2 separate regions of the Homo sapiens genome follow, and region 2 is linked to region 1. A link means that fine-mapping ties the variant in region 1 to the expression of a gene that starts in the linked region. Tissue or cell type: skeletal muscle. Region 1 holds a variant in brackets; the other region holds the start of a gene. All regions are shown on one strand. Distances are between the middles of the regions. Region 1 has its middle 25 kb from the start of PAXIP1-AS2. Region 2 holds the start of PAXIP1-AS2 (PAXIP1 antisense RNA 2).

Evidence for each region.
Region 2: it holds the start of PAXIP1-AS2, and the variant in region 1 is fine-mapped to the expression of PAXIP1-AS2 in skeletal muscle (GTEx, PIP 0.97).

The regions. Positions count from the first base shown.
Region 1 is chr7:154,901,091-154,906,464 of GRCh38, forward strand. No RefSeq gene overlaps it. Among named protein-coding and RNA genes, the nearest start is that of PAXIP1-AS2, 25 kb to the right of the region's middle. The variant T/A (reference allele first, on the strand shown) is at 3,272.
Region 2 is chr7:154,925,967-154,931,340 of GRCh38, forward strand. PAXIP1-AS2 (PAXIP1 antisense RNA 2) reads left to right here and starts at 2,551. Exons shown (of 8, transcript NR_024476.1): 1 at 2,551-2,801; 2 at 2,990-3,058. RefSeq lists enhancers at 2,632-2,691, 2,712-2,811, 2,962-3,181.

The DNA.
Region 1 (5,374 bases):
ATTAACAAATTTGAGACGTTGATAGAAGACTTTCATACTCAGCCAAGTAGCAGCCATGAACCTCAGCCCAAGGAGAATGCGTTGACTGCATTTTCACCTTTGTTACTACTGGAGTCTCAGAACATCCTTGGGAAGGACATGAGGCAAGTAACATAACTATTCCAATTTCACTGATAAGGAAGGTGCACAAAATTTAAATGATTTGCCCAGAGGATGTAGCTGGTTTTTACTTCAACCAGCTCTAAAACCCTAATTCCCAGCCAAAGGCTTTTCCATTGGAAGGAAAAGGGAAAATTTTTCATTTCCCAAATTAGTTATCCCAGTAGATCAAGAGACCCTTCAGGAGACCTAAAGTCAACTTGTGAAGATTCACAGTGTTAATTTCTGCTTGTCTGAACTTCCACAGTGATGAATGGAGCCACAGCCAGTCGTGCTAAGCTGATTAAATACGCACTTTGCTAGCCACCCACCATGATGCCAACTCTACCCGCTTTTTTTAGTATTCCTGTCGTGTGGAGTCCACTCCCACATGGAATCAGGCTTGACCCCTGTGACTACAGAATACTGCAGAGGTGACAGTGCGTGAATGCCAAGGCTTGGTCATTAACGGTACTGCAGCTTCTGTCTTTCTCTCCTGGCCAGATGGCTCCTTCTGTGGGAAGTTGGCCACCATGTTGCAAGGATGTTCAAGCAGCTCCACGGAGAGGTCCATGTTGAGAGGAACTGAGGCCTCCCACCAGCAGCCAGTGCAATTCTCCAGCCATGTAGGGGCGCCACCATGGCAGTAAATCCTCCATCCTCTGTCAGTCCCACCCATGACTATGGCCACAGCTGACATCTGATTGCAACCTCAAGAGAGACTCTCAGACAGAATTCTTGGCCAAGGCACTCTCAGATTCCAAATCTAAAGGAACTGTGAGCAATCGTAAATGACTGTTGTTTTAAGCCATTAAGTTTTGGAGTGATTTGTCACACAGCATTCGATAACTAATACAACTCACAACCACCCCCAAAAACTCTGCCAGCACCCGCATCAGTGCCTCTGCAGGACACCCCTTTCTGTAAATATGGGATAGGCTGGGGCATAAGTGACCCTTGAGAGTGGGCGCAGACTCTGAACCGTCTGACATAAGTCACTGGTTCCTAGTCCCAAGCATCAAATCCCTGCTACATTGGGAAGGGTTCACAAATGGCAGGAAGAGAAATGGTAGAAAAATTCCTTCAGGCACTAACTGGAGTCCACCCTAGCACTACCACCCCTCTTTCTTAGAAGTGGAACCCCCAGTTTTTAACTGGGCCTATGGTCATCCAGAATAAAAACTGTTCCGGCCTCTTCGCTGAGCCTAACTTCTGGCCACTGGGATGTATGTGACATGCCACATGGCAGCTGCCAAGACACTTCCTCAAAAGACAGCAGGGAAGCATCCTTGGTCTCATCTTCTCCCTCCTCCCTCTGGGTTCCTGAAGACCCAACAGAGCCTTGGTCCACAAGGTGGAAGCTCCGAGCCAAGGGTGACAGAGAGCAAGCAGATGCTGCCTGGGCTCCTGGCAGGTGGGCACACTATACCAGCCCTGGTGTCCCTCATCAGAACGCTCTATCTTCTTTATCTTGGCCTTTTCTGTGTTTTGCAGTCAAATTTGATGCCAGCTAGCACACTGCACTGTGAGGGCTGAATTACACAGGCCAGCGGCTTGATCCTAGGGCCCAGAGCCTCTCACTGCAAAACGCTGTGTAGTTGCCAGTTATTCAGGACAACTAAGCATTTGCATTGGACACAAGGCAGATGACTATGCATCCATTCACTCCAAAGATCACAATAGCCACATTAATAATAATAATTAACATTTATGAAAAGCCTGCTCTATATCAAGCACTGTGCTAGCATTCTGCGTGGATAAACACATTTAATCTCTGCACAATTAACACATTTCAATCTACAACTACCCCATGAGGTTGGGTTACCATTATTTACGTTTGGCGGACAGGAAACAAAAGGAACAGAGAGACGCCGTCACTGGCCCCAGATAACAAAGCCAGTCAGTGCTCGGGAGGGAGTCCTGCCACCACCAGCTCCCTCTCCAAAGGGAGGCCCTTACCAGGTCCCAAACCCGAGTCTACCCACGTTTGGGCACAGCAGATGAACTGTGTGACCTCCATGTGTTTGAGTAATAGGCTTGGCCTTGGCAGGTTGATTTGTTTGAGCTGAAAGAGAACAAAGAAAGGCCTTCTGCCCAGGTGCCTGGAGAGGTGAGCAGGGGTCGCTGGTCTGCGAGAGGCTCTCCAGCAGGAGCTGAAGAACTCGTTTTCTGGGAGACAAAGGGAGGGCTGGCTTGGCCTGGGAGGCTGGGGGCACTCTCTGTGGCCCAGAGGGAGCGCCATGCAGTCGGTCCAGAGAAGCTCTGAGATCTGGGGCCACCTGGGCAGCCCAGGGTCTGCAGCAGCCTCCTGCCAGTCACCACGGCTGGAACCTGGGGGCTGTGGAGGGCTCCGAGGTGGAGGATGGTCCCATGTGTCTGGGTGAGCAGCAGACACCACGGGAGCAGCTGTTTGACCTGAGCCAGTCACACAAAGGAGTCAATTTCCAGCTGTGTGGGAGCCTGAGTCCAGGCACACTTGGCAAGGAGCCCTTGGTGGCCAGCGTCCTAGCCTGAGATGGCAGGGGGCAAAGCTGGTGAAACGTAGGTCGTCAGTGGTGGTGAGACCCACTCTCACCCAGAGGCCGGCAAGGTCAGTGAGCAAGATTATCCACTGTAGTTCGTTCAATCGGATTTCACTGCCAGTATTCCCTGTGGAGAAGAGTGGTATAATCAACATAATTTTTTTTTTTTTTTGAGACGGAGTCTCGCTCTGTTGCCCAGGCTGGAGTGCAGTGGTGCAATCTTGGCTCACTGTGACCTCCACCTCCTGGGTTCAAGTGATCCTCCTGCCTCAGCCTCCCGAGTAGCTGGAACTACAGATGTGCGCCACCACACCTGGCTAATTTTTATATTTTTATAGAGACGGGCTTTCACCATGTTGGCCAGGCTGGTCTCGAACTCCTGACCTCAAGTGATCCTCCCGCCTCGGCCTCCCAAAGTGCTGGGATTACAGGCGTGAGCCACCAAGCCCAGCTCATAAGTATATAAATATGATGAATTCATTGACCAGTAGAGAAGCAGGACCCATGAATGTCTCCAAATTCTGTTTTCAACTGCACCAAGACTGCTGGAGTTTTACGTCTCAGATATATTAGCAGATGTGTGCTTTTCCAAATAACCATTTTTACGGAAA[T/A]CTTAATATTGTCTGAAAGTCAGCATGATTGTCCTGTGAATGAGATTTTTACTCGCTTGGCGGAAGGAGGCAGAATGAATCCACTGCTTGAGATCCTCTTCTATGACTGCAGCAACTGTGGGCTTTGAGGACCTTGAGCTGGACTTAGATGACCCTCTCAGTGGTATGCTGGCATCAGCCTTCCTAATAGAAAACAAAAGGAGAGAAAAACAAAAGAAAAGAAAATCCCAACCCATAGAGTCTGTCGATCTCCGTGGTGTAAGTGTTTCCACTATGGCCAACGTCAAACACCCAAGCTGCCATCACTGAAAATGGAGTTGGGAAGCAAAGGGCCAAACCCCTTCCCGCCCATTTCCAGTGAGTAGGTGTGACACTCTCCATCAGGCACCACTAACTCTGGCTAACACCGGTTAGTCTATGGGGCAGGGCCTCTAGGAGGGCCAAAGAATGCAGCACCAGGAGTTGACAAACCCACACCCTCCATCCTGGACAGGTTTCTTCTGTGGCATTGGGCAGGCACTTCCACAAATCGAAACTGACTTTTTCCCACCCAAATGACAAGTTCCCGGGGTAAGCGAGACGGTTTATTTCCCCCATACCTCACCCCTCCGTCCCCCATCAACAGCGCCTGGCTCACGTGGCAGTTCTGAGCAACTGGAGAGACGTGGACAGAATGAATTGCAAGAGGATGTGGGGGGTCCTAGCTCCATGTTGGGCGGGACCACCCCGCATTTCCATGCTCCTGGAATCCCACCCTGAAGCTGAGCTCCACACCCCTGCTTCTAGAGCACTTTCAGAGACCGCAGCCTCAAGGAGGTCTACTGATTCAGTAACCGGCAGAGGCTGTCTGGGGAGCACGGTGGAAGTTAAACGCCATGAAGAGAGCATCCAAGGCCCCCAGACTCTGGGGTCAGGAGTCTCACACCACCACGCTGCTGGCTCAGGCATAATTTATCAGGCTTCATACATATCAGAGGAGGCCGCAGCTGCTAGCACTCCACGCCAGCCCTGCAAACATTTCTTCAATTATTCAGTCACCAGGCACAGGGAGCTAGTCCACTGCTTCAAAGTTACATTGTTATAAAGTAACAATTACAGCAAGGTTTAGGGCTGAGCTCCCAGGCCTGGACACTCCGCCCCACAACCCTGACCACCCCAGTCTTTCTCTCTCTCTCTCTCCAGTCGTCTCTCTCTTTCTCTCCTCTCTCTCTGTCCATTCTCTCTGTCTCTGTCCCCATCTTTCTTCTCCCCTTCTCCCTCTCTTTCTCTCTCCTCTTTTGTCTTTTCCCCATCTCTCCCTCCCTCCGGCCTTGTATCCTTCCTTGTCTCTCCCCGTTGCCTCCCCTCCTCTTCCCTCCCCATCTGGGTGGGTGGTCAGGCCTTGGTTAGGCTTGGCCATCCAGAGAGGAGGGGAAGCCTGGTCGAGCACCCAGCACTGAGCAGAGCAGACAGACTTGGCGAAGGAGGTGGGAGCAGGGATCAGGAGGGAGGGTGCAGGGATGCCCCTGCTGTAACAAAGCATCCCAAACCCGAGACTTCAATAACGGGGTTTTATCCTATGCTGCTGGAGACTGAGCTCCGAGATCAAGGTGTGGGCAGGGCCAGGCTCCCTCTGAGAGTGCTAGGGAAGGGCCTGTCCTCCGACACTGTGCTCTCCCCCAGGGGATGGGGCGGGGGGCTCCCTGGATTGTGGCTGGGTCTCTCCACACTCTCCGTGGCACTCTCCCTCTGTGCGAGTCTGTCTCTGTGTCCCAATTCCCCCTTTTCATAAGGACAGCAGTCATATGGAGTTAGCGCCCACCCTGCTGACCGCATTTCAACTTGATCACCTCTGGTCAGACCCTGTCTTCAAGGAAGGTTCCATTTGGCGGTGCCATGGGTTAGGGCTCAGCAGATGTTTTGAGGAATACCACCATTCCAGCACAACAGCAGGGCCTCCTGGGTGGGAGGAGGAAGGAGCAGCTGGGGCGGGAGGGCCTGTGTCTCTGAGGCAGCTTGCGGCTATGGGGTAGGTGGCCCCGTGAGTGGACTTGGGACAGGGCCTTGCTGTGTCTTTGGTCCTCCTAGGAAAGGCCTCCTGGACTCTCCGGGGCTCTGCCCTTC
Region 2 (5,374 bases), 25 kb after region 1:
ATATCAATGGAGGACACTGACCACAATGGATCAAGTACTGTCTTTAGTACATTTTGTAATTCTTCATTAAGCAATAATTCATTGTCTTTCATGGCAATATGGATTGCAATTGGATTAGATTTTGAAAATTTTATTAAAATATCTGTTGTGTCTCAAAGTTGAGTTTTATAATCTAATTTTAAATATATTTCCTTCCTTTGAGAGAAAGAAATGTGGGTATCACATAATTCTAAGCAGTTTCTTCCTGTTGAATGGATGGGGTCTGATGGAACAAAGAGGAGGGCATGAGTTCCTTGTAACGAACACTGTTGAAAGGTTACAGGCTGAGATTGGTATGCCAATACAGGAGGATTGTGATGCCCACCATTTGAATTCTTTGTTTACTGCAAGGAATGGGACCTTGTACCAAGATGGGATTAATTCCAGATAATGTGGCTCCAGTGTCAATAAGTGCTTGTGTTAGTTCTCCATTTATAATAATTTTTATTTCTCCCAGTGTTAGTAAGGAGGAAATGAAAGGCCCCTTTAAGTTCCTTGGAGCACCCCTGTTTTCTTTTCTGCCTCCACTGGTTAACATTCTTTCCTTTTTCATTTTTGGCAACTCTTTTGAAAGTAATCATGCTTTTTGCAAAAATTGCAAAGTGGAAGGTTAGGTCCATTAGGGAGTTTCTAGGGGTATTGTGAAGGCCAAAATTGTGTGAATAGTTGTTTTAATTGTAAATTCATAATTGTATTAGCCTCGCTCTTTTGTTTGGCTTCCCTCTCTCTTTCTTCTTCAGTTAAGGTATCAGATAACCGGTCAATGAGACTGACCAAATCATGAGTATCAGAAGTGGCCCAACTTTGTCTTTTCATTGTTAGTTCCAATTCATCTAACTCATTTGTTAAACTGGAGTCGAGTATCATTTCGATGATTAGCACAGCTTTCTTCGGATAAAACTAAATATTCTTTAAAATTTTTTCCACAGCCCTCAAAGTATATTACTGACTCATCTGAATTTTGTTGATATTGTATTTTGTTCCAGTTGACTACTCTGAAAAACTGAGGAGATAGCCTGATGCAAAGCCTTTGCTGTTCTTCAAGCCTGTCTATGGTCCTCTTCTGAACATTTATGAAGATCCCTAACAGATTTCTCCAGTGAGCTTTGTCTAGCCAGCCTTTAGCTTTAATTTTTGCTACTAACATGTGAATCTGTTGCTAGAAGTCAGAATAACTAGGGTCATAAGCTTGGATATTTAATTCAAATTTCCTAGCAAAACCAATAGGAACCTGGTGAAGATCAAGGAATTCTTTTAACTATGCCTGTAAGTTTGATCATGATTGATAAAGCAGGTTCCCCTCTACCAGATGCTGGATGAAATGGAGCCAAACCAGTGGGAGCAGGAGGAGGGGCAGGAGGAGGAGGAGGAGAAGGTCAATCAGGGCTGGGTAGTTCTGACAAGGAGGCTTAGAGAGACAGGGGAGCAGGGAGAGAAGAAGACATTTCAGTGTTTTTTAAAATTCAGTAATGGTTTTAGAGTGCTTTTTATTTTCTTCCTCTAAGGGAAGAATTCTGTCAAAACCTCTTTTGGATGCTTCTGGGTGCCATTGGAAGTAACTCTCTTAATTATTTTATTTGATTCCATAGCTGGCTTTTTAAAATTGTGCATATAAATAAACTAATCTAGCTATTTCAAAGATAATTCTCTTTGATCATTGTAATTTAGGATCTTCTTAGGTCAAATAAGACCATTTCTCCAACTATCGACAGGAGGTGGCGCCATAAGTCTTGTACATAAACCCCGCTGGAGTTTCCAAAGGTGCATTGCTTAATGAGGGCTTGGTTATAGATGGATAATTGCTCATAATTTGGATTCTCTTTTAAAATGCCCAAAGGCTAAAAGGGAAAAGTGTTTGGGGTCCAGTGTGCTGCTTAGTAGGGATTATTCCTGGAGGTATCACCTACAAGTAGCTTCTTCCCTCTTACCTACCTCAGAGAAACCCAGACATTTCTGGGAGTTCAAGGCACTGGGTGACGAACCCCTTGTGTGTTGTGTGCCCCGGGGGTTAAGCAGCTCTCCCTGTGAGTTCTTCTCTGGGGTTTGTTGTGAGCTTCCACACCCTTGTGTTACCTCCATTGCCTAAGGTGCCTTTCAGCTGGGAGAAAGAGTCCTTTTTGTCTTCAGCTTATCACGTCCTCATTCCAACCTTTTACAAATTTTGGGTGACTCAGGAAGAAACTTTAAATCTCAATGTTAACCAAGATCCAAAGCCTGGCTGGTTTAAAGCCACAAATTTGGCTTAAGCCACAAACATTCACTTTCTCCTTTTACAAAGAAAACTGCTTTCTCTTTAACCAAATGTCAAATGAGAGAAAAGGTTACAAACTTGAGCAAGTAAAAAAATGTCCAATGAGAGAAAAGGTTACAAACTTGAGCAAGTAAAATGTCCAATGAGAGAAAAGGTTACAAAAGAGCAAGTAAGACGAACGAAAACTTAACCTAATAGAAAAGTGAAACCACAAACCTGCCAATAGCAGAATCTTTAGAGAAATGACGCGAAACTCCTGCCTTAAAGCCCTAAATGGCGGCTTCAATATCAGTCCCACTGAGCATGAAATTCATTTACTTAAATAAAATCTGAATCTCAGCCCAAACCTGGGAGATTCAAAACCTGAGAGCGGTCTTACCAAAGACGCCCGTATGTCTGGTGAAGTCAGTTGGATGCAAGCAGTTTGTGCTGGTACCAGGGCCCCAGCTACTGATGAAGTGGCAGGAGTCCACAGAAGCCTACTTCGAAGTTCCCGGGGCTTCCAGGGGAGGTGAGAACACAAGTGATGGGAGAGCCTGGGGAGGGACTGTCTGGTGAGTAAAGGTTGTGCTGCTCTGTGGATGAAATGTCTCTGAGGTCGTAAACATCTCAGAGCCGCCTTCGGGAGAACGGGTGATAGTCATCTGGGCTGATGTCACCTCCAGTGTCCTCTCCTGTGATCTGTGTTAATCCTCCCAGATTGACGAGATTCCTGGGGAGGCGATTCATGACAGCTGAGTTCCTTTTGGAGGATCCGTCTTCAGGCAGGTAAGGGGAGCTCAGAGGAAACCTCTGCCTGCATCCGCTGATTCCCAAGTGCCCTCAGCTCACAGGGATCAGCACTCCCAAGTGCCATGGGGGTGGCATTTCCTGAACTCCTTCAAAGCAATAACAACAGGCTGGGCGTGGTGGCTTACGCCTGTAATCCCAGCACTTTAGGAGGCTGAAGTGTGAGGATTGCTTGAAGCCAGGAGTTCAAGACCAGCCTGGGCAACATAGGGAAACCCTGTCTCTACAAAGAATTAAAAGAAAACTTAGCCAGGAATGGCAGTGCACACATGTGGCCCCGCCTACTCGGGAGACTGAGGTGGGAGGAGTGCTTGAGCCAGGTGGTTGAGGCTGCAGGGAGCTGTGATTGCACCACTGCACTCCAGCCTGGGCAACAGAGTGAGACTCTATCTCAAAACAAACAAACAACAACAACAAAAGTGAAACAATAACAACAACTTTTACAAAACGGACATTTGGGATCTACATGCCACACTCCTAAATGCGTCTCTTAAGCAACAGGTGTCACAGTCTTAAACCTTGTCCTTACCCTCTTCATTCTAGGCACCTGTTTCATTCCAGGTAGGGCTTCCTCCTGGTTTCCTAACACAGCGGGTTGAGATGAACAGCAGAGAAGGACACTGCACACCTCTGCAGGGTCTCCCCTCTGGCCCACCAGCCCTCCCTTCTCCAGCAGTGAAGACCTCACTATGTCATCCAGGCAGGAATAATATAGACAGAAACCCCAGAAGCCCCAAAGCTCTGAAGCCTAAACCACAAGCCCCACGAAGTTCCACAGGGCCCACTGGGCAGAATGGCGTGAACCTTCAGGGTTTGTTTGGTTTTATGAACCATTTAGTCATTCTTTCTCCTTCCTCCCATGGTAGCACTAAAATACATTCTCAGGCTCCCAGGTATATACAGGGGGGACGGAGAGGCGAGGATATTCCTGATTGGAAAACAAAACAAAACCTACCTTTACTAATCTCAATATACAGATTAGGCTAATCAGATTAAATAATTCTGAAAGTTTTCAAAATGTCATTGTTAGATTTTTCATTATTTTAGAGAAGAGGTCTTACTCTGTTGCCCAAGCTGGACTCAAACTCCTGGGCTCAAGCGAACCTCCTGCCTCAGCCTCCTGAGTAGCTGGACTACAGGTGCGCACCACCATGCCTGGCTGAAATTGGTTTTTATTGAGGGTCTTGATATGAAAAAAAAGTCTTTGAATCTTAATGTTACTTTTTCATTTCTTCTTGGCAACCAAAGCATCCATGTTTTAATTTTTCTTTGTTTATTGTTGGCTGGAGAGCACTGCCTTCCTCATGTACCATGCATCAAGCCCTCTCCCCAGCCTGAAGAACACCATGTTCCTCTTAGCGATCATCAGTAACAAGGCGTGCCACTCGAAGAACTACAAAGATAAGGGTTTGGGGTTTGTGCTGGGGAAAGCTCATGACACTAGCTGCAGGAATAGAGGACTGAGCCTCCCAAGTCCTGGAAAGCAGAGGGAGGATGCCCCGCTCTGATTTCCTCAGCACCTTTGCAGAGCTCTTGGTCTCCTGCCTGTGCCCTGCAGGCCTGACTCACCTTCCTCTCTGCACGTGAGACTCTGCACACCTCCTATCGTGTTTATTGACGCATGGCAGCCTCAGCCCTCCATTTCATGTGACCTCCCAGCTTTGCTCTCTACAACACCTAACCCAGTCAGTTTCTGTGTCCTAATTCAAAATTGCTGGGAGAAAAAAAAGTCTGATTGGCATTTGAGTTTGAGAACGAAGGCTTGAAAGAGCCAGTTTGAAGAATGGGAGCAAGGCCTGGCTAGAGCACTGATCGACAAACTTTTCCTGTAAAGGGCTGGGTAGTAGATATTGCAGGCTTTGCAGGCCATGAAATCCACGCTGCATTGTAGTGGCATGCAAGCTGCCATAGCCAATCTGTAAATGAATGAGTGTGGCTGGGTCGCATTAGCATTTTATTTCCAAAAATAGCAGGTGGCCAGATTTGGCCCAGGGACTATAATTTTCCAATTCCTGAGATACTAGAAACAGAAGTGTTTTGTTGTTGTTTTAACTAACTCTTTATTGAAGTACAGCAAACAAAAGTATACACATTATAGCATTGTATGAACTATCACAGAGTGACTACACGCATGTAACCACCAACTGTGTGAAGAAAACATTGCCTGCATCCCAGAAACTATGTATGCACCCTTACTAGTCACTAATCTCACACTCCTCCCCAAAAGTAACTAAAACTCTGATTTGTATTGTCAGTGGTTTCTCCTGTTTTGGACTTTATATAAATGAAGTCATA